2 linked regions of the Homo sapiens genome follow. The protein of the gene in region 2 purifies or fractionates together with the protein of the main gene of each other region. This does not show direct contact. Each region holds a gene or a part of one and is shown on either strand. Other genes may lie near its edges. The genes, in order: ISCA1 and GCDH.

The links.
Region 1: the proteins of GCDH (region 2) and ISCA1 purify together in Homo sapiens (affinity purification with mass spectrometry; 2 studies listed by BioGRID and IntAct, with this or other methods). This does not show direct contact.

What each region holds. Positions count from the first base shown.
Region 1 is NC_000009.12:86,265,539-86,281,758, forward strand, and holds part of ISCA1 (iron-sulfur cluster assembly 1 homolog, mitochondrial precursor), read right to left. Parts: intron 15,916-16,220; exon of another isoform or gene 12,679-15,915; intron 8,705-12,678; coding exon 8,651-8,704; intron 6,575-8,650; coding exon 6,469-6,574; intron 654-6,468; coding exon 505-653; 3' UTR 1-504. UniProt on the Homo sapiens protein: Involved in the maturation of mitochondrial 4Fe-4S proteins functioning late in the iron-sulfur cluster assembly pathway. Probably involved in the binding of an intermediate of Fe/S cluster assembly.
Region 2 is NC_000019.10:12,893,921-12,900,499, reverse strand, and holds the end of GCDH (glutaryl-CoA dehydrogenase, mitochondrial isoform a precursor), read right to left. Parts: intron 6,407-6,579; exon of another isoform or gene 5,589-6,406; intron 4,509-5,588; coding exon 4,379-4,508; intron 4,296-4,378; coding exon 4,079-4,295; intron 3,591-4,078; coding exon 3,487-3,590; intron 3,198-3,486; coding exon 3,072-3,197; intron 2,798-3,071; coding exon 2,637-2,797; intron 1,715-2,636; exon of another isoform or gene 1,160-1,714; coding exon of another isoform or gene 1,115-1,159; intron 1,033-1,114; coding exon 959-1,032; 3' UTR 801-958; coding exon of another isoform or gene 757-800; 3' UTR 501-756; downstream 1-500. Other genes in the region: SYCE2 (synaptonemal complex central element protein 2), read left to right, coding at 1-40, 380-496, 1,115-1,159. UniProt on the Homo sapiens protein: Catalyzes the oxidative decarboxylation of glutaryl-CoA to crotonyl-CoA and CO(2) in the degradative pathway of L-lysine, L-hydroxylysine, and L-tryptophan metabolism. It uses electron transfer flavoprotein as its electron acceptor. Isoform Short is inactive.

The sequences.
Region 1 (16,220 bases), on a different chromosome or scaffold from region 2:
GTACTATTAAAGAGTATGCAGTGAGGCAGCTGACAATGAAATTTTTCATAAAAATGTATAAAAAGGCTATGTTAAGTTTGGGTGGAAAAAACAATGCACCACCATATTACTACCAGCAGTCACGATGTCCTGTCTCAGATTTTAGGAGTCACCGATCTGGTTGGGAGAAATGCTGAGGGATGATCAAGCCATCAATAGCGATCTAAGGAGTGCACACAGTTCAGGAAATGGATAAACAGGTGCCCAGGAAGGCAACTTTAATGAAACTGGTTCTAAAACAAAGGATACAAGAGACCTAAATGATCCAAAAAGAGTGATGGCTTCTCATTTTCTGTCCCCTATAGAGAATATAAATATCATTTCTTCTGGAATCCAACACACTGGATTCATTTTCAAGATGTATCACTTTATTTTCCAGCACGTGACAGTCACATGATTTCTGCAGTGAGCCCCAAAGCTTCCACGAGCTTTCCTGGAACCTACGGCCAGAAGAGTCCTGAGATTTCAAATATTAAAGCTTTCTCCACAGCCACAAGTCCCTTTGATGTTTGGGTTATTGAACACAAACTCACTGGATAATTTGTCTTCAACATAGTCCATTTCTGTTCCTAAAAGTGTTAGCTGTGCTTTCTTTTCGATGAATACTCTGACTCCTTGGAGAAAAGAAAACATGTGTCATGGAAAGCCTGCAGCCTTATGGAACTTGCTGATTCAAAGCACAAGTGAACTTGAAATAGTGACTATCAATGAAAGTCAAACAAGAAGCCTTGAACATTTTAAATTATTTCCTTAAGGAATTAAGCATTCAGTTTCCTGTCTGCCCCTTCTTTCCCACACATGAATTTATGTCACAATCACATTAGGGGAGAATTTTATACAAGTAAATTCCATGACAATTTTATGCAAAATTAGAATTTACCTTTCACTATACTTCACTCATTTTTCCAGTTTGCAACATGAAGAAAATGTATATTCTCGATGAGTTTTATGAAATAAAAAAAAATTTATGAAAATTCTGCAATACACTAGATACACGGATTCAAGCTTAAAGATGTACAAAGGACTGTGATACAATGGGGCTATTTTAATAACATCAATCAGTACAACAATAGTCTTTTCTGGTTACAGGACGGAAAACAGGTACTATTCCCTAGTAATTACACAGGTAGAGGTCAGCATCTTTGTAAATACAATCTTTTTTTTTTTGGACAGAGTCTCACTCTGTCACCCCGGCTGGAGTGCAGTGGTATGATCATGGCTCACCACAAGCTCCACCTCCCAGGCTCAAGCGATCCTCCCACAGGATTACAGGCACATACCACCAGGACCAACTAATTTTTTTAGAGTCAGGGTTTCACCACGTGGCCCAAGCTGGTCTTGCATTCCTGGGCTCAAGTGATCCTCCCACCTCGGCCTCCCAAAGTGCTGGGATTACAGGTGTGAGCCACAGTGCCCAGCCAACAAATACAATCAATTTAAGAAAGCTTTCTAGTCTGGGAAACAGGGCAAAACCCTGGCTCCACTAAAAATACAAAAATTAGCCGGGCACAGTGGTGGGCACCTGTAGTCCCAGCTACTCGGGAGGCTGAGGTGGGAGGACTGCTTGAGCCCGGGAGACAGAGGCTACAGTGAACCATGATTGTGCCACTGCACTCCAGCCTGGGTAAGAGAGCAAGACTCTGTCTCAACAAACAAACAAAACAACGAAACAACAAAAAAACTTTCTTCCTTACAAGAAATTGAGCCATTAGCTAAATATAAACAATATATAATTAAGTCACCTCTTCTTTAAGATGAAAATCTTAAGGTTTATAATGTGTTATAATTTTTAAAATAATACATTTTTAAAAGGTCTTTATTGATAGTTATAACTTTAGTTTAATAAGAAAGCACACTTAGGAATCTAGGCCTCATTCTCCCATGTAGGTAAGAACTGCAAGCTAAGTGCATACTTCCAATGACAAGATAAATTATTTATTTTAGATAGGTTTTAACAGATTATAGGGTGGAAGAAGGGGGCAGCAGCAAATATAATTAATTTTAATTATAAATTAAATTATAATAAATAGCTTTGAATAAAAATTGGAAATACAGGATTCCTCAAAAACATGAGTTGATAATACAGCTCCACTAAAAATACAAAAATGAACCAGGCATGGTGGTGGGCGCCTATAATCCCAGCTACTTGGGAGGCTGAGGTGGGAGGATCGCTTGAACCAGGGAGGTGGAGGTTGCAGCAAGCCGAGATCACACCACTGCACTCCAGCCTGGGTGAGAGAGCGAGACCATCTCAAATTAAAAAAAAAAAAAAAAAAAGGATTATAATGGAGCTGAAAATTCCCATTGCCTAGCAATGCTGTAGCCACCATAATATCACAAGACAACCCATTACTCAGGTGTTTGTGGTGATGCTGGTGTAAACAAACCTATACTGCCAGTCATATAAAAGTCTAAGCATGTTCAATTATGTACACTACATAATACTTGATAATGATAATAAATGGTTATGTTACTGCTTTATGTATTTACTATACTTTTTATTGTTTAAAATTTTAGAGTGTACTTCTACTTATAAAAAAAAAAGTTAACCGTGAAACAGCCTGAGGCAGGTTCTTCAGGAGGTATCCAGAAGAAGGCATCATTATCACAGAAGATGACAACTCCATGAGTGTTACTGCCCCTGACGGCCTTCCAATGGGATGAGGGGAGGTGGTGGAAGACAGGGATATTGATGAACCTGACCCTGTGGAGGCCTAAGTTAATACGTGTGTTTTTGTCTTAGTTTTTAATTAAAATGTTTATAAAGAAAAAATTAAAAATAGAGAAAAGCTTATAGAATAAGAACGTAAAAAATTTTTGTTATTTGTACAATGTGTTTCAAAGCTAATGTTATCACAAAAGAGTCAAAAAAAAAAAAAAAAACCCCAAAGCTTACAAAGTAAAAAAGTTTCAGTAAACTAAGGTTAATTTATTATTGAAGACTAAGTGTACAAGGTTTATAAGGTCTATAGTACTACGGAGGAACGTCCTAGGCTTTCACATTCACTTATCACTCCCTACTCACTCACTGACTCACGCGGACAACTTCCAGTCCTGCAAGTTCCATGCATGGTAACTGCCACAAACAGGTGTACCATGTTTTATTTTCTTCTTCTTCTTCCTTTTTTTTTCTTTTTTTTAAGAGATGGAGGTCTCGCTATGTTGCCCAGGCTTAAGGGCAGTGGCTATTCACAGGTAAGAACACAGTGCACTATGATGTCTTTTTTTCTTTTTTGAGACAGAGTCTCACTTTTTCACCCAGGTTGGAGTGCAATGGCATGGTCTCGGCTCACTGCAACCTCCGCCTCCTGGGGTTCAAGCGATTCTCCTGCCTCAGCCTCCCAGTAGCTGGGACTACAGGCGTGTGCCACCACACCCAGTTAATTTTTTGTATTTTTAGTAGAGATGGGGTTTCACCATGTTGGCCAGGCTGGTCGTGAACTCCTGACCTCATGATCCACCCACCTCGGCCTCCCAAAGTGCTGGGATTACACAGGTGAGCCACCACGCCTGGCCAGTGCACTACATTCTTGAACTCCTACACTCAAGGAATCCTCCTGCCTCAGTCTCCTGAGTAGCTGGGACAACAGGCTTGTGTTAACACACCCGACCACATTTGATCTTTTACAAAATTTTCTTAAGCTGATAAGCAACTTCAGCAAAGTCTCAGGATACAAAATCAATGCACAAAAATCACAAGCATTCTTATACACCAATAACAGACAAACAGAGAGTCAAATCATGAGTGAACTCCCATTCACAATTGCTTCAAAGAGAATAAAATACTTAGGAATCCAACTTAAAAAGGACGTGAAGGACCTCTTCAAGGAGAACTACAAACCACTGCTCAATGAAATAAAAAAGGATACAAACAAATGGAAGAACATTCCATGCTCATGGGTAGGAAGAATCAATATCGTGAAAATGGCCATACTGCCCAAGGTAATTTATAGATTCAATGCCATCCCCATCAAGCTACCAATGACTTTCTTCACAGAATTGGAAAAAACTACTTTAAAGTTCATATGGAACCAAAAAAAAAACCCGCATCGCCAAGTCAATCCTAAGCCAAAAGAACAAAGCTGGAGGCATCACGCTACTTGACTTCAAACTATACTACAAGGCTACAGTAACCAAAACAGCATGGTACTGGTACCAAAACAGAGATATAGATCAATGGAACAGAACAGAGCCCTCAGAAATAACGCCGCATATCTACAACTATCTGATCTTTGACAAACCTGACAAAAACAAGCAATGGGGAAAGGATTCTCTATTTAATAAATGGTGCTGGGAAAACTGGCTAGCCATATGCAGAAAGCTGAAAGTGGATCCCTTCCTTACACCTTATACCAAAATTAATTCAAGATGGATTAAAGACTTAAACGTTAGACCTAAAACCATAAAAACCCTAGAAGAAAACCTAGGCATTACCATTCAGGACATAGGCATGGGAAAGGACTTCATGTCTAAAACACCAAAAGCAATGGCAACAGAAGCCAAAATTGACAAATGGGATCTAATTAAACTAAAGAGCTTCTGCACAGCAAAAGAAACTACCATCAGAGTGAACAGGCAACCTACAAAATGGGAGAAAATTTTCACAACCTACTCATCTGACAAAGGGCTAATATCCAGAATCTACAATGAACTCAAACAAATTTACAAGAAAAAAACAAACAACCCCATCAAAAAGTGGGCAAAGGACATGAACAGACACTTCTCAAAAGAAGACATTTATGCAGCCAAAAGACACATGAAAAAATGCTCGTCATCACTGGCCATCAGAGAAATGCAAATCAAAACCACAATGAGATACCATCTCACACCAGTTAGAATGGCAATCATTAAAAAGTCAGGAAACAACAGGTGCTGGAGAGGATGTGGAGAAATAGGAACACTTTTACACTGGTGGTGGGACTGTAAACTAGTTCAACCATTGTGGAAGTCAGTGTGGCGATTCCTCAGGGATCTAGAACTAGAAATACCATTTGACCCAGCCATCCCATTACTGGGTATATACCCAAAGGACTACAAATCATGCTGCTATAAAGACACATGCACACGTATGTTTACTGTGGCACTATTCACAATAGCAAAGACTTGGAACCAACCCAAATGTCCAACAGTGATAGACTGGATTAAGAAAATGTGGCACATATACACCATGGAATACTATGCAGCCATAAAAAATGATGAGTTCATGTCCTTTGTAGGGACATGGATGAAATTGGAAATCATCATTCTCAGTAAACTATCGCAAGGACAAAAAACCAAACACCACATGTTCTCACTCATAGATGGGAATTGAACAATGAGAACACATGGACACAGGAAGGGAACATCACACTCTGGGGACTGTTGTGGGGCGGGGGGAGGGGGGAGGGATAGCATTAGGAGATATACCTAATGCTAAATGATGAGTTAATGGGTGCAGCACACCAGCATGGCACATGTATACATATGTAACTAAGCTGCACATTGTGCACATGTACCCTAAAACTTAAAGTATAATAATAATAATAATAATAAAAGAAATTTCACTATACTTTTTCTTTGTTTAGGTACGTTTACACAAATACTTACCATTGTGTCAGAACTGTGCACAGTATTCAGCACAGTCACGTGCAGTACAGGTTTGTAGCCTAGGAGCAACAGGTTATATTATCTAGCTGAGGCATATGGTAGGCTCTACCATCTAGGTTTGTGTAAGTACACCCCAGGATATTTGTCCAATGTCACATTTCTCAGACCGTCTAGGTTTGTCTAAGTACACCCCAGGATATTTGTCTAACGTCACATTTCTCAGAATGTATCTCCAATGTTAAGTGATGTATGACTGTATCTGCATTATACTTACTGCTTGAGCATCCCAAATCCAAAAAGCTCCAATGAGCATTTCCTCTGAGTGTCATGTCAGCACCCACTTTTAAAGTTTTGAATTTGGGAGCATTTCAGATTTCAGATTTTTGGATTGGAATGCTCAACTCGTACTTATTTGACACAGATATAAAACTACTGCTTACACAAAAACTGTTGGTTCACTGTGAGGTTTAAGGCTGGTTCACTTTTTGGACACAACGATGATCTTTCATAGTTAAAACAAGCTTATATAATAATTTATCAATTAGTTACTAAGAGCAGTCTCTGGAAAGAATTTTACTAGGCCACTTATTATGACCTTAAACTATTTAACCCCTCTGTGCCTCAGTTTCTTCATCAGAAAAACAGGGATAATATGGTACCACCCACATTCAGCATTGTGTATAAATCAGTTAATACATGAAATTCCATCAAACAACACCTACACACACAGTGAGCATTATTTACATAATTCCTGCTACTATCCTTATTTTTTACTTTGTGCTGTGCAAGGCTAATAATTTTAGGCAAAACAATGTGCCCAAAAAATGTTTGTTAAAAACTCACCATCTTGAATAACTTCTTCATCAGAATCTCCTTTTGTCTTTGTATATTCTAGAGTATAAGAAAGGCCATTACAGCCCCTGGTTCGGACACCAACTTTTACACCTACCTGAAAAAGAAGTGAAAATATAAACTTGGTTTTAAAGTAGTACAGATTAAACAATTATACTAATAAAGTGACAGTAGCCTCCTCGTACCAAAATGGACTTTCTCTTATTTTTTGTAGGACAGGGTCTCACTATGTAGCCCAGACTGGTCTCAAACTCGTGGACTCAAATAACGCTTCCACCTCGGCCTCTCAAAGCATTGGGATTACAAGGCAGGAGCCACCCCGTCCAGCCTGGGACTTTATTTAAAATGTCTTTGCTCTACCTTGTTCTGTGAGATATCCTCTGAATGTTTCCTTATGGTTAGGATTCACCAGGGTTCATAGTCCACCATCTGGCAATCCTACCTCTACATGGGATCTGAATTATAGTGCAGACTTGTGTACAGTCTCAAATACCAGAAAGCAAAAGACTGCAGTCAATACAGACAAAAGAAGTTTAAAAAAGTGACCAAACAGCACTTTAAAAGTATCAATGTTTACATTAATGCAATTTTCAAACAGTATCTACCTAAGTTCTCTGTCTTAGAGCTGAGCTGATTTTTCATTTAAATACAGTCATCCCTTAGTATGCATGGGAAATTGGTTCCAGGACTAACTGAGTATACAAAAATCTGCAGATACTCAAGTCCCTTATGCAAATGGCACTGCATTTGTATATAACCTATATACATCTTCCCCTGTACTTTAAATAACTTCTGGAGGACTTGAATACCTGTAACAATGTAATGCTACATAAACAGTTGTTATACTGTATTGTTTAGAGAATGAAAGTCTGTACATGTTTAATACAGATGCAACCTTCTATTTTTTTCCCAAATATTTCTGACCTATGGTTGATTGAATCCACGTATGCGGAACCCACAGATACGGAGAGGTGACTGTATACAGCAAAAGTATCATAAGTACTATTTCACCAGCAGTTCCTGATTCTACAAAGCCGAATTCTTGTTTCATTAGGCCAATTTGTAGTCTACTCATCGGTCTATCCAAATTGAATCAGAACACTGATATCCTTTGAAATTTAATAATTTTAAAAGGTAGGTTTGAGAACTTCCATTACATTGTAATGTAGTAGGTTAACAACAGAAACCAGAAATCACCCCACCGTCTAATTATTAAATATTGCAATCCATTACTTGAAATGATTTACAGCATTCCATCGGCAACTAACAATGTACAATTAAGATGATACACACATCCCTAACTCAACAATTCTGTATCTAGGAATGGATCCTATGTAGGTGGACTAAGCCATGCTTACAGTTCTAGAACAATGAGCCTGGCACACTGCAGACACTAAATAGTTGCTGAATGGTGTTTGCGGCAGCACTGAATGAAAACGACCCTTTAATATGGGGACTGGTTAAAGAACTCAAACTTGTTCAATGGAATATACTCTACATGCAGCCAAGAAAGGGAGGCAGATCATTACATAATGACATGGAAAGATCTTCAAGCCATTATTAAGGGTAAAAAGCAAAGTGTAACAAAAAAATTTATGGTAGGAAGAGATATACACAGGAATAACAAGCCCAGTCTAGGCCAGTGGTTGCCCTCAGGGAGACATTTTTGGTTGTGACAACCAAAGCTTTGTGGAATCAGGAACTGCTGGTGAAATAGTACTCACCATACTTTTACTCTATACAGTCACCTCTCCGTATCGGTGGGTTCCACATATGTGGATTCTTTGGTTGAGGCAAAGAGGGGGTACTACTGGTATCTAATGGACAGAGGCCACAGATGCTGTCAAACATTCTACAATCTGCCCTAAAGTGTCAACTGTGAGGAGGCTGAGAAAATCAGGTCTAGCCGCTTCAAATGTATACATTATCCCTGGAAGGATACCAAAGAGATTGCTTCTTGGAAGGAAGAATGACGACGAAGAGTCAGGTTGAAAGAATGACTTCCTTTTAGTTAAATACCCTTTTGTATTATTTGAATTTTTTAAAAATCCTGAGTATATTTTACATTTTAAATAAAAACCCCTAAATGAAATAATACTGTATATCATGGGATAAATTCATTCTGAAAATGCAGCTTCAGTTTTTTACTGAATAATTAACTGGTTTTACTTACATGCTCAGGCTTATCTTTAAGAAGTTGTTTTATCTTGTTTACTGCTGAAGGTGTCTGAAAAAAGAAAATGATGTTTTTAGCTACAAAACTTGTTATTCAAAGCCTCATATTTATCAGTCTTCGTAAGTCTGTCTTTAGCAAATTCATGTGACAAATTTATGTTCCATTCTTGCCAGGGTACCTTATGGACTTTATATAGAAACACATAAACTATACCTAATTCAAAATATCCTCTTTATTTAAAAAAAAAATCTGCTAGCAACATCCTTTTAATCTTGCTCCTCAGTCCAGGTTGGTTCCCTGTCCTTCTCTCTATGGTGCTATTCACTCACATTACAAATGCTATTTTTCTGGGCAGCATCTATTTTGTGCACCAACTCTATGCCCAGGAACCAGCATGTTGCCTACGACAAAGAGCCAATGAAGGAATCAAGTATCTCACTGGGAAGGCCAACCTTCAGGTGTTTTTCCTGTTGATTATTAATCCTACTGCTTTTTTTTTTCTTACTCACAATCCATTTCTAATCCATCAAAATGCATAGCTTGAGGAAACAGTGTTACCAGCATAAAATAACCCAGGGTGTGCTTCTTGCACCAGTCCCACCAAATGCTCACATAGATTTTTTTCAACGTGGATTAAACCAACATCTCAGGAGATCTAGATGAACAAAACTAAGCTAGTCAATGACAGAAATAAGAACAAGGAGGAGCTGTTTCCCAGAGAAATGCTGTTTTAACATAGCTCAGCGGGCCTCAAAATGAGAAAAACATCACAGTTTGTGTGAAATAGGTCGGTGTTGCCAACCCCACTTCTTTGGGAAGGAGACTGTTCCCCGACATTCCTGGCCCACTTCCTAGCTGTGCCTCCAGGGCAGTCACCCTAAGTGGCTTCTCTGACTTCTATTCCCTTACTGGTGAAACAGGGATAACAGTTCCTCCTCCTCCTGATTCTTGTGAGGATTAAATATTTAAACTCATGGAAAGCATTCAGGACAGTGCCAGGCACAAAAATACCAAGTATTATTATGATTATGAGAGTACATCATAATGAAGACATTATGTGCGTCCTTCCTACTTTATCAGCTCCTCTAGCTGGCAGTGCTCTGCAGGCCCTCCAGTCCCTTGTACTGACATTTTACTGTACAGTAAAGTCTTTGAGACTGCTTGTGAAGTCTCAAAGTCTGGATATTACGACCTAAGACTTGGTAGTAAACTGAGGCCAGGACTGACACCTGGAAGAGCCAGCCCAATGGATGGCCCTAGAGTGTGCTCTCCTGCCCTGTCGGGGTTGGGGCTCAGCTAGATGAGCATGCTTAAACACAGTACAGACCCAGTTTAGAAGGGCATGAAAGCAATTTGGAATGTGAAGACCAACATGTCTTAAACATTTTAAATAGAAAACAATGCACTGCACTTAAAAACGTGAATGTTGTTTAGTAAAACTTTTAATTCAGTTATTAATATATAGTATCTGTGTATATACATTTCTTATTACATGTCACTGTAAAAAAACAAACCACTACCAGTAGGTGGGCCTCTAAAGGCCCATGGTTTCCCATGGTTCTGTCAGAAAAGGAGGCATGCAGTCCTCCAACGCAGGAAGTAGCACACAGGGTGGAAGGAGAAAACAGGGAAGAGCAGGATTATGGTTTTGTTTTTGTTTTTTGAGTCACAGAATACCAACTTTAAATAGTTACAGAAATAGTTATTATTTTTTAAAGTGCTCATTACCCTTCTAAAGCAGTGGTCCCAAATGTTTTTGGCATCAAGGACTGGTTTCGTGGAAGACAATTTTTCCACGGATAAGGGGAATGGTTTCTGAATGATTCAAATGCATTACATTTATTGTGCACTTTATTTCTATTATTACATTGTAATATATAATGAAATAATTATATAACTCATCAAAATATACAATCAGTGGGAGCCCTGAGCTTGTTTTTCTGCAACTAGATGGCCCCATCTAGGGGTGATGAGAGACAGTGACAGATCATCAGGCATCATTCTCATAAGGAGTGCACAAACTAGCCCCTCACACCTGCAGTTCAGACTAGGGTTTGTGCTCCTATGAGAATCTAATGCCCCTGATGATCTGACAGGAGGTGGAGCTCGCTTAGGTGGTAATGCTTGGCTTGCCTGCTGCTCTCACCTCCTGCTGTGAGGCCCTGTTCCTAACAGGCCATGGACCAGTACCAGTCTGTAGCGCAGGGACTGGGGACCCCTGTTCTAAGTGATTGTCAATAAAAGCTAGCTTTCTTATCAACCACATGTAAATTTTCACCATATTTTCCTATGTGCATGCTGAAGAAATTAATCACTTACTGTCAAATAAAAATAGCTTTCTGTAAGTTTATTTTAAAAAGGCATAGCCTGGCTGGGCCTGGTGCCTCATGCCTATATTCCCAACACTTTGGGAGGCCGAGGTGGAAGTATCACTTGAGGTCAGCCAAGGTGGAAGGATCACTTGAAGTCAGGAGTTTGAGACCAGCCTGGCCAACATGGTGAAACCCCGTCTCTATTAAAAATACAAACATTAGCTGAGGATGATGGCATGCGCCTGTAATCCCAGCTACTCCGGAGGCTGACGCATGAGAATCGCTTGAACCCAGGAGGCGGAGGCTGCAGTAAGCCGAGATCATGCCACTGCACTCCAGCCTGGGAAACAGAGTGAGACTCTGTCTCAAAAAAAAAAAAAAAAAAAAAAAAAAGGCATAGCCATGGAAAATATCCGCGGGAACTAAAATCTGAAACGTGGTCTTGGTTTAATCTGAGTGGATCAAAGGCACAGATGGGCACACCACTGCATGATCTAAACAAAACAAATGTGTCTGTCACACTACTCCGTTTACCAGCCCCAAATATATAATTTTTTTTATCTCCAAGTGGTTTTCTAAATTATCTAATTTGGTTTTACAAAGTCATCTATTTTCTTATTTTCTCAACTTTTAGCAGGAAACACTTAAATACAGTAAATGAAAGCAATTCGTGGGGATTGGTCTACTTATCACCAAGTTGCTGATGTTCACATCTCATACTGAAGGACTCTTTAAGGGAAAAGTAACATTCAACAGGAACCTGTGTGCCTGGGAAGCTGCTGTTACAGGAACTAAAATATGTCTTAATTTTCCTGTGCCAGGCCAAAACCAAACCTACTCCACTGGGAGGGTGTTACTAATGATGGACAACCCAGGTCAGTACTCAACCAAGGGAAAAGGTTCTTAGAACTTTCAAAGTGACTGATCTGATTTTCAGAACAAGGGAGAGTGGTTAAAAGGGAAGAGTTGGGACTTAAAAAAAATCGAGCTATAAGAGGTACTTTTTGTGTCTCAGTACCAGGGAGAGGCTAAGAATCCTACCCTGCTTTAAGTCTACATACTCTGGCAACTTTGTGCTTAGGTAAAATTCATGTGAGAAACAGCATAAAATCTTCAACTACACAGCATGCTGCAGGGCCTAGCAGCCTGCCAGTACCAGTGCACTTCCCAGAACAACTAAGAAACATGTAATTCTCAAGAAATTTATGTACTATTAATGAATATAGCTTACCTGAGATTTGGCCCATGTTTTAAAATTTAAGAGCTTCCTGAAGCCCACTAAAATATGATGGTTTTTACTCACATGCAAATCACAGGAATATGACTTTTAAAGTGAGAGGTTATCTTTGAGGTAAGGTATTTTGGCCTAATTGAAAAATAAATATATTTCCAAGATGTTTCCGCTGTTAAAATTAAGGGAAAAGGCATTGTAGATGAATGTTTTATCACTACTTCATAGCAACACGCTTTCTAATCCTTGTAGGAGAAACTTTTCATTCTCAATCCTGTATTTCTTTAAGTAACTCCCCAGGCAATTTTCATTTTTTGCTGTTTAAGAAAATTAAATTAAATTCAAAGCTAAAGTTAACTCTGTGATTATGCATACTAAACATGTGCCAACAACTACAACTTAATTTCTCTACAAACATGGCATTTTAATGTCAACATATCAATTTTCTGGGGGAACAAAAGATGGTAAATAAATAGAGCCAGTGAACAAGTACAGTGTATTTTATTAAAATCATTCTTTAACAGCCATGGCTGGCATTAGAGTGTCAAAATAAGAAAAGACAAAAGCATTCTCTTTTGTCTTTTCTTATTTGTGTATATGTGTATATACACATCCAAAATACATATAATATACAAATATATATTTGTAGGCCAGGTGTGGTGGCTCATGCCTGTAATGCCAGCACTTTGGGAGGCCAAGGTGGGAGGACGGCTTGAGGCCAGGAGTTTGAGACCAGCCTGTGCAACAGAGCAAGACCCTGTCTCTACAATAAATTAAAAAAAAAAAATTAGCAGTCAAGGTGACATGTGCCTGTAGTCCCAGTTACTTGGGAGGCTGAGGTGAAAGGATTGCTTGAGCCCAGGAGTTTGAAGCTGCAGTAAGCCATGATCATGCCACTGCATATGAGCCTGGGTGACAGAGGAAGATCCTGTCTCTAAAAAGAAAAAGGTTTGTAATCATGGCATATATACATAATTTTGCAGCCTCCATTGAAACAATTTAACAAATTATTTTTTCATTTGATACATGGTAATAAACATATATTCACCATTTACTGAGCACCTTCTAAGTGTTTAATGGTTTAAACGTAACATCTTTTTATTCCTGCCATTGTGATTTAGGTATTAAAGATTAAATAATTTGCACAGCATAAGTCAAAGAATGAAGATTTATAACGCTGAAACTTAAAAAAAACCATAATTTACAATGACTACATCCTTCACCAACAGGATCTACTCTCACGTACTTAACCGTTCTTTCACTGTTAGACTGCTAGGCTACTTCCAGTGCTTCTTGTGTAGTATTTCCTAAACTGCCTTCGTATAGAAATCTTAGTGCTTGGTCACTGTTCAAAAGGACTTCTGGTTCTAGTCCAATGAACTAACACACAGTTCCTTACTGAGCATTAAGCATTTCCTAGCTTCTCAACTGGACTCCAATAGAAAGTTAAGCCCTAAGGCACCTTCCGTACACAATGAATTCATCAAGAATGATAGTGGCTGTGCACCATCATTCTCTCATAGAACTTGGTTGAGTTTTAATGCACAGCTGTGATCCACCCCAGTCCTACAAATTAGAGTTGCTCTGACTTGTACAATGATGGAAATAAATCTGTCTGCAAGCAGGGCACTATTTACTCTTCAGATTCTTTAATCACATCTGGCTCCTGCAAGTTCAATTCCACTTGTCAATTTCTAGATATGTAGGGAAATAGGGAAGATGTAGATAATCTGATAATGACAGCATTGAACTGTGTTATATTATCAGTTACTTTTCCTAGCCTTTTGTTGACATCTGGTAGACTCCACACATATAGCACTTTTCAAATGTTGCAACATGTCAAATTCCTAACATCAAAATTTATATATCCAGGTAACATTTATCCCTTCCAATCAGTTTTACTGAATTAGGTATACTTGTGTTTGCTCTTATCTGTCTCTACTTATTAGACCCAAGTAACATTTACCTCTTCCAATCAGTTTTACTGAATTACGTATACTTTTGTTTGCTCTCTTATCTGTCTCCATTCATTAGGCCTTTGACGGCATCACTACTTTTGCACTTGACGATACATGCTGATGATAAACTAAGCACAAAGAGCAATACATGCCATAGTGTCCTGACTAGGGCACGAATGCTGGAACTAAAATGACTGCAAGCCCACCAACACAGGCTGTGTGGAAAACAGCATTGATGTGCCTTCTCTCTGGTACAGCTTCTGAGAAGCTTCTAAAGTCAGCCATACTTAAGTAGGACAACAGAGTACAGACAGTAGACTCCTGCAAGTTAATCAAAACAGCTGAGTCAGGCAACATGGATACCTTGAGAACTGCTATGATAACATGTACTGAAGCAGAGGGGAGCAAGTGTGGAGAGAGACCAAGCCTGAGAATGTGCAGTGCTATTACTCCTAGTAAGAGGTGGCAAAGGCTTGGCCTGCGACTGTGCCCCGTAGGCTGGGAACTGTATAACTCATTCATTTGTCTTGAAACACAGCAGATCTTGATAAATGTCTGCTGAATGACTAGGAATGGAGAGAAAGGGACTGACATAGAAATTCTGAAGGAAGGGCAAGGCACGGTGGCTCATGCCTGTGATCCCAGCACTTTGGGAGGCTGAGACGAGTGGATCACGAGGTCAGGAGTCCAAGACCAGCCTGGTGAAGATGGTGAAACCCCATCTCTACTAAAAATACAAAAATAAATAAATAAATAAGCTGGGCATGGTGGTGGGCGTCTGTAATCCCAGCTACTCAGGAGGCTGAGGCAGAGAGTTGCTTGAACTCAGTAGGCAGAGGCTGCAGTGAGCTGAGATCACGCCACTGCACTCCAGCCTGGGCAACCCAGCGAAACCCTGTCTCAAAAAAAAAAAAAAAAAAAAGAAATTCTGAAGGAAGAGGTAACATGTCAAATGGTGATGGAGAAAGACATCAGGGACCAGGCATGGTGGCTCACACCTGTAATCCCTGCACACTGGGAGCCTGAGGCAGTGGACTGCTTGAGCCCAGGAGTTCGAGACCAGCCTGGGCAACCCAGGGAGACCCTAGGTGCATGCATGACGGTGCACACCGGTGGTCCCAGCGACTTGGGAGCCTGAGGTGGGAGGATCGCTTGGGCCCAGGAGGTTGACGCTGCAGTGTGCCATGATTGCACCACTGAACTACAGCCTGGGAGATAGAGTGAGACCCTGTCTCCAAAAACAAAACAAACAAAAACAAACAAACAAACAAAAAACAAAAAACAAAAAACCCAGTTAATAGGGTTGCTAAAAAGCAAAAAAGAAAAGGCAAAAACTGTTCCTGAACCTTCTGGCTCTTCCTGGATCTACCATTACCAGTGGAAGAATTCTGAATAATTCTTACTGAGATTGAAAGAGACACAAAGAATGAGTTGTGCCCTCTAGTTCTTAAAACCTTGTTTAATTCTACATCCCACGGTGTATGAAAATAAGCTTGCTCCTACAGAAAAGAGGTAATATAGAATGATACATAATCAGTACACTAGTAGTACCATATATAATCAGGGTAATATCAAAGGCCTAAAAAATTGATTATAAAAATAAATTCTCTCACCTGATCACAATTTTCTTCTACTTTGCTACAAACTTATTTTCTGGTAATAGGCCCTTTTGGCATTAGATGCAACAGAATCGATGAGTCAATTTAAATCGTTTTTTTTCCCAGTCTCTAAGCGAATGGTTGCATAAAGTCGTCTCCTTCACTAAAAGGGGAGTGTATGTAGGAACGTGATCATAAATTTTTCTTTTGGGGTGAAAGTATTTTGGAACTAGATAGAGGTGATGGTTGCACGACACTGTGAATGTCTTAAATGGCACTGAATTGTACCCTTTAAAAGGACTAATTTTATGTTATGTGGATTTTCCTTCCACTAAAAAACTGAACGGTGCGGCCGGAACACTGAGCTCAGTGAATTCTCTAAGTAATCAATGGTTGCACTCTGGTGCCCTCTGAGTGTTTGACCTTTCACCCAGAAAAGGCTGTAAACTCACTCTGGGAAATCATCTT
Region 2 (6,579 bases):
CGTGGAGACTGTGTACAAAGACCTGTGTCTCCAGCCTGAGGTATGAGTAAACTCACAGGGGGGGCGCTGCCTGAGGAAGAGGACAGGGATGGCCCAGCCAAGAGTAAATGTGAACAGAAACCAGGCACCCAGCCCTGACCCCGCCAGGCCACAGTCCCTGCAAAGCCCTTGGTGCACTCACCATCTTGTTTGTGATCCCCTATAACATGGTGTGTCTGAGCTGAGAAGCCAAACCGTTGTCATGTCCCACTGTTGTATGAGCAGCTCTGTGGTGACAGAAAGGACAAAGTCCCTTGCACCCCTGCCACTCAGAAATCATCCCCTCTGCCCACAGCCCTGGCACAGACCGGCACTGCTAACCTGGGTTTCTTTTTTACAGCAGAGCCTAAGACTCAGATGGGGGCCAGACCACTCTAGGGGAAAGTCCCCACCACGTCCCGGCAACTCACAGCCCCCAGACGTGTTCGTTTCTTCTGTGGCTGAAACTACTTCTCAGGTGGTTACCAGTAAACCGGCCTGACACCTTGGGGTCAGATGTGCAGGTCTTTATTTTCCTCTCCCTCACTCTGCTCCAACACCCAGCATAAGGCACTACCCCCAGATGGGAGGGAGGGAGGGCGCACTGTGAACTCAGTGTGAGGGGGTCAGCTGCAGCAGACGGAGTTGCTTCCATGTCACTCTCCTCTCAAGAGAAGCTGCTATTTCAGGGTAAATGGAGTCTGCTCTCATCCATGGTTAAAAGTGGATTGAGACGCTCTACAGAGAATTCCATCTTCTTTTTAAGGAACACATCTGAACGACTTCAGAAGGGAAATTTTGATATTTAAAAATCAGTGTCTCTCACTTCCCACTCCATCCGCCACCTCCCTTTCTAAGCTCAGAGCACAGCGCTCCTACGGTCCAGCCAGGCATCTCTCCAGAAAGGGGCTTGAGAGTTTCGGGCCCCTGATGGAGCGGCTCACTTGCTGGCCGTGAACGCCTGGATTCCCGTGATAGCTCTCCCAAGGATCAGGGCGTGAATGTCATGTGTACCTGGACAAGATTAATACAGAGTCGGTTTGGAGTTTTCATAGCTCACAACTTCCCTTTAAAATCAATTTTCATGTATCCCCAGGCCACTGCTTCAGAAGTACAGACCAACAGAGATGGTGAATGCTGACAGCTGCCGGGAGACTCACGCCTTAGTGACAGTCTCCAGGAGAAGACTGTGAGGCCACCATTTGGGCCACACTGAGAAATTGTTTTTCATGGTTCTATAATGCATCTTGGCAGAAAAAAACAAAAACCCAAAGCTCCTTGTGCTGAACTCCCAAAATGTAGCAAGTCCAGCCCCTGCCATAGGCCCAGGCTTCGTGCTCCCCACCCTTGGCAAGTTCTCCCCACCCCCAGCCCCACAGTTTATTAAATGTTTGATTTTCAACCTGGCCACGCTTCCTTGCCACAGAGGCTGAAAGCACCCCTGAGCTCCAAGGAAACACAGCAAGCCCTTTCTTACCCTCGGGAGGGATAGGAGGGACAGCACATCGGAAGAGCAGTCACTTGCCTCAGCTGACCTCTGCCCATCTGAAGCCGCCTCTCCCAGAGAATCCCACACCCCATGCCCTGGTGTCTCATCCTTTGCTCCTCCCCAGCTCCTTGAAGCAGAAGGCAGATTGTAGCCTCCTTTTTAGAGCCAATTCTGTTTACTTCCTAAAGTACAAACCTATTTTTTTTAAATATAGATAGGGTCTCACTCTGTCACCCAGGCTGGAGTGCAGTGGGGTGATCATAGCTCATCATAACTTCTAACTCCTGGGCTCAAGCAATCCTCCTGCCTTAGCCTCCCAAAGCGCTGGGATTACAGGTGTGAGCCACTGCGCCGAGCCCCTAAAGCACCAAATCTGACTCATCCCTTCTCTGCATAAAACCATCTCATGGCGCCCGCTGCTTGTCCTCAGGGTCATTCTCACATTTGTAGGATCCCCCCACCCCCCAGATGCCAGATAGAGACAAGATCTGGGGTTGCAAGGTGCGCAGGGAAGGCACCCCTCCTGCATTTGCTGTTCTCTCTGTCTGGAAGCATCTCTGCCCGGGGGGTCCTCATACCTCCCTCTATTTCTACATAGCGCATGCTGGGTTTGCACTTTTTTTTTTTTTTTAAGTATCTTTTTCCACATCTGTCTTCCCACCAAGCAAGGGGTTCTGGACCCCCATGTAAATCACCATCAGTTACAGGGTGCAAACACCGTCATCTGAAGATGACTTTTGTCTCTTAACAAAATGGAGCGTTGATTCCTGCGTGTAGCTTCGCTCACTCCCTTGCGTCCACCAGCCTGCTAGGAGTCGGGCCTCACCCCTGGGCTGCCTTCGGAGCTTACCTGTCTCAGGAACATCCCTCCTCCCGAGCATGTGGGAGAAAGAGCTGGGAGCCCCTCGCAAGGCCTGATGGGGCCTCTGTGTGCTGCATGAAGCACTTCACTTCCACAGTCCCCATGTGAGTAACTCCAGATGAGGGACAGAGGGGTAAGGCTCGCCCCAGGTCACACTGTCACTTAGTGATAGGTGGAGTTGGACTCAGACCTGTCCCCGTCCCACCTCCCTGTACCCCCTCCCCAGACACTGAGGCCTCAGTGAGCCCTCTGAGGTCCAGCTCCTACCTTCGTAGGTGTTCACGGCCTCCAGGTTCATGGCGTGCCGGATCACGTGATACTCGTCAGAAATCCCATTCCCCCCCAGCATGTCTCGGGCCTGGCGGGCGATGTCCAGGGCTTTCCCACAGTTATTCCTCTTCAGCAGAGAAACCATCTCGGGGGCAGCCCTGGGAGTGGCACATGAGGGTAACAAGGACTGGGGATCCTGGCATCCCGATGCTCCAAGCAAACCTAGCCCGGGGTGGGGATTCCCTGATGCAGCCAAGCTCCCAATGAGGGACCAGTGGGGCTGTCCTCAGCCCAGCCCATCAAGGACAAGAGGGACAGCAGAAGGTTCAGGTCCCCAGGGCCACCAGGCAGGAAGGACCTTTCTCTCCAGGAAGGACACAAGGTCCTCCAGCCACCGCTGCCATCCCCCCGCCCCCACCACACAGCCCCTACTTGTCCTGGTCCTTCAAGCGGCCGAGCTGCAGGCAGGCGTGAAGGCCCAGGGTAATCTCAGTGAGCATGTCTGCCAGCTTCTTCTGAATCAGCTGGTTCCTGGCCAGTGGGACACCAAACTGCATCCTACATGGGCAATGGCAGGGTAAGAGCGAGGGGAGGCCCACTCTCCCACCCCGTCCCTGTCCTGGGGCCCCCTGCTCCAGGACGCCTTCCCAGGCTGCCTCAGTGCCCCCAAGCTTGCCCTGGCCCTGCCGTTGACTCAGCCCACAGCTGCTCAGAAGGACGTCACTGGTCATTCCAGAGCAAGGAACTCAGGCCTGGTGGGTGGGGGCTGGGGAGTCACCCATGGTATAGAGAGTGAAACCCAAGCTGCCCCACACCCCCAGAGAATCTCACTGCAGCCCTCACACACCTGTCGAGGGCGTACTGCCGGGCTGTGTGCAAGCAGAACTCCGAAGCTCCAAGCACGCCCCACGCGATGCCGTACCGGGCGTTGTTCAGGCAGCCGAAGGGACCCTGTAGGGTTGAGATGGCGCCTCAGGCCCACCCAAGAGACACCAAGAGGGCCTATGCAGAACCAACTCTGAAGCAGGGAAAGCCTCCTCCCCAGCCACCCCACGCAGGGGGACTCAGGTTGTGGTTCACATCACAGATGGCCCTGGCACTGAAGCTCGGTGCCTGCTCACTCGGTTTGCACACAGTCCCACCCAGCCTGGCATCTGGGTTCGATGCTCAGAGCCAGGAGGCTGACGGATGCCAGAAGATGCACTGTGAGTCAAATGACTGAGCTGGTTCAGGCCCATGTGTCCCGGGCAGAGCCGGGATGAGCGAGACGGTCACCAAATGGGGGCAGTTTTCAGCACGTCAGCGAGTCCGGCTGAGTAAGAATCACCACTGTGTGGGCTCCACAGGCACAGGGAGCCGCGTCCCCAGCACGGAGCCTGCCTGACAAAGCCGCATCCGCAGGTGACCCAACACCCATTCCCAAAGTGGCTGCCACTTACCCCCAGGCTGGATGCACCAGGGAGCACATTCTCCTCTGGCACCTCCACACCGTCCATGATGATCATGCCTGTGGCTGAGGCCCGCAGCGAGAACTTGCCCTGGATCCTGGGGGCCGAGAGACCCCGCATCCCCTTCTCCAGCAGGAAGCCCCGAATGCAGCCATCTTCACACCGAGCCCACACTACAAACAGATCGGCCATAGGCGAGTTCGTGATCCTGGGGATGGAACAGTCGGTGAGGGGTCTGACCAGTGCCCCTTTGCCCCTGTTCACCACCTGCCCACCACCCAGAACCCTTACCAGGTCTTGGTCCCATTGAGGGTGTAGCTCTTGTTGGATGAGTTGTAGTGGGCTCTGGTCTCCATGCTGCTGGGGTCACTTCCGCTGTTGGGCTCTGTGAGCCCGAAGCAGCCCAGGAGCTCCCCCTTGGCTGCAGGCACAAGACAAAGTCACAAGGCTGCCTGGTCCCTGATACATCCCCTTACTCAAAAATTATCCTCGTGGCGGGGTGCAGTGGCTCACGCCTGTCATCCCAGCACTTTAGGAGGCCAAGGCAGGTGGATCAATTGAGGTCAGGAGTTCCAGACCAGCCTGGCCAACATGGTGAAACCCCATCTCTACTTAAAAAAAAAAAAAAAAAAAAATAGCCAGATGTGGTGGTGGGTGCCTGTAATCCCAGCTACTCAGGAGACTGAGGCAGGAGAATCGCTTGAACCCGGGCAGGAGAGGTTGCAGTGAGCCAAGATCATGCCACTGCACTACAGCCTGGGCAACAGAGCAAGACTCCATCTCAAAAAAGAAAAAAAATCCAGCCTGACCAATATGGTGAAACCCCATCTCTACTAAAAATACAAAAAATTAGGCCAGTCGAGGTGGCTCACACATGTAATCTCAGCACTTTGGGAGGCCAAGGCAGATGGATCACTTGAGGTCTGGAGTTCGAGACCAGCCTGGCCAACATAGTGAAACACCATCTCTACTAAAAATACAAAAATTAGCCAGGCACGGGTAGCAAGCACCTGCAATCCCAGCTAATTGGGAGGCCGAGGCACAGGAATTGCTTGAACTGGGGAACCGCAGGTTGCAGTGAGCCAAGATTGTACCACTGCACTTCAGCCTGGGGGACGGAGCGGGACTTTGTCTCAAAAAAAGAAAAAAAAAATTACCCTCGCCCCTGAGTCAGACCTCATAACTAAGTTAGATCTGGCCCTGCTTTCAAGAGACAGGTTACCCCAAAGTCATGATCACAATGCCAAGATGGGGAGGGGGACCCAGGGAATCAGGAAGGAGTTGGCCAAACTGGAAGGGTGTGAGGAGTTAAGCAGGAGGAGGCTGTGGGGAAGAGCAGTGCTGGGAGAGGGAACAGATGTGTAAAGAACTGGTGGTACTTCTGGAGAATTTCAAGTAGCTAAGTCTGGCTGGGAGGATCACATGAGTGGCCAGAGATGAGGTGGAAAGGTCAGCAGAGGCCTGGTCACACAGGGCCTTGTGGGTTTTTTTTTTTTTTTGCGAATCTGATCTTATTTGTTACTCAAAAAATCTTATTTCTGACTGGATTCAGACTTAGAAGTGGAAGCTCGCAGAGAGGACAGTCTGCGTCTCTTCACGATTTGTCCCTGGTGCTTCTTAGCCTCCTTCATTCTCTTGGCCAAAAGTTTAGCATATTCTGCAGCCTCTTCTTTATTTTTCTTAATATGCGGCTGCTTCAGAGCAATACGCCGCTGTTTGTGCTGCAGGACATGTGGAGTGACAAGGCGCTGAATCTTGGGTGCTTTGGTCCTAGGTTTCTTACCTTCTTTGTTTAAGGGCTTTTTTACAACATACTGGCAGACATCATTTTCTTTAGAGAGACTGAAAAGTTTACGGATTCTGCTAGCTGTACTGGGCCCCAGGTGACGAGGCATCATAGTCTCAGTCAGTCCAGGAATACCCTTCTCTCCTTTTTTTTACAATAACCAAGTTGAGAACACTCAGATTGGCATCCACGATGCAACCATGAACTGATCTTCTCTTTCTTTCTCCAGTTCTCCTTGGTCTGTAATAGGAATGCCCCTTACTCAGTAGCAAGTGGACACGGCCATGGGTCAAGACACCCTGTTTCAAGGGGAAACCTTGTTTATTGTTCCCACCACTGATTCCGACCACGTAACCCTTCCATTCTTCACCCAGAGCGTCAACAGCAACTTCTGTGGCCATACGCTTCTCATAAAAAGTACAAAGTTTGCGTTCATCGTCCACTTCAATGAGTTTCTGGCAGCCAGTGGCTGGGAAGGAGATGTTCAGCTTCATCTTGAAGCAGCTGAACACCTCCGAGACACCACGGAAGAGGGCCAACGTCCACTTAGCGCAGGTCACATAGGCTCTTTCCTTTTTTTGTTTTTCTAATAGACATGGGGTCTCCTTACGTTGCCCAGGCTGGTTTCGAACTCTTGGGCTCAAGGGATCTTCTCACTTCACCCTCCCAAAGTGCTGGGATTATAGGTGTGAGCCACTGCAAATGG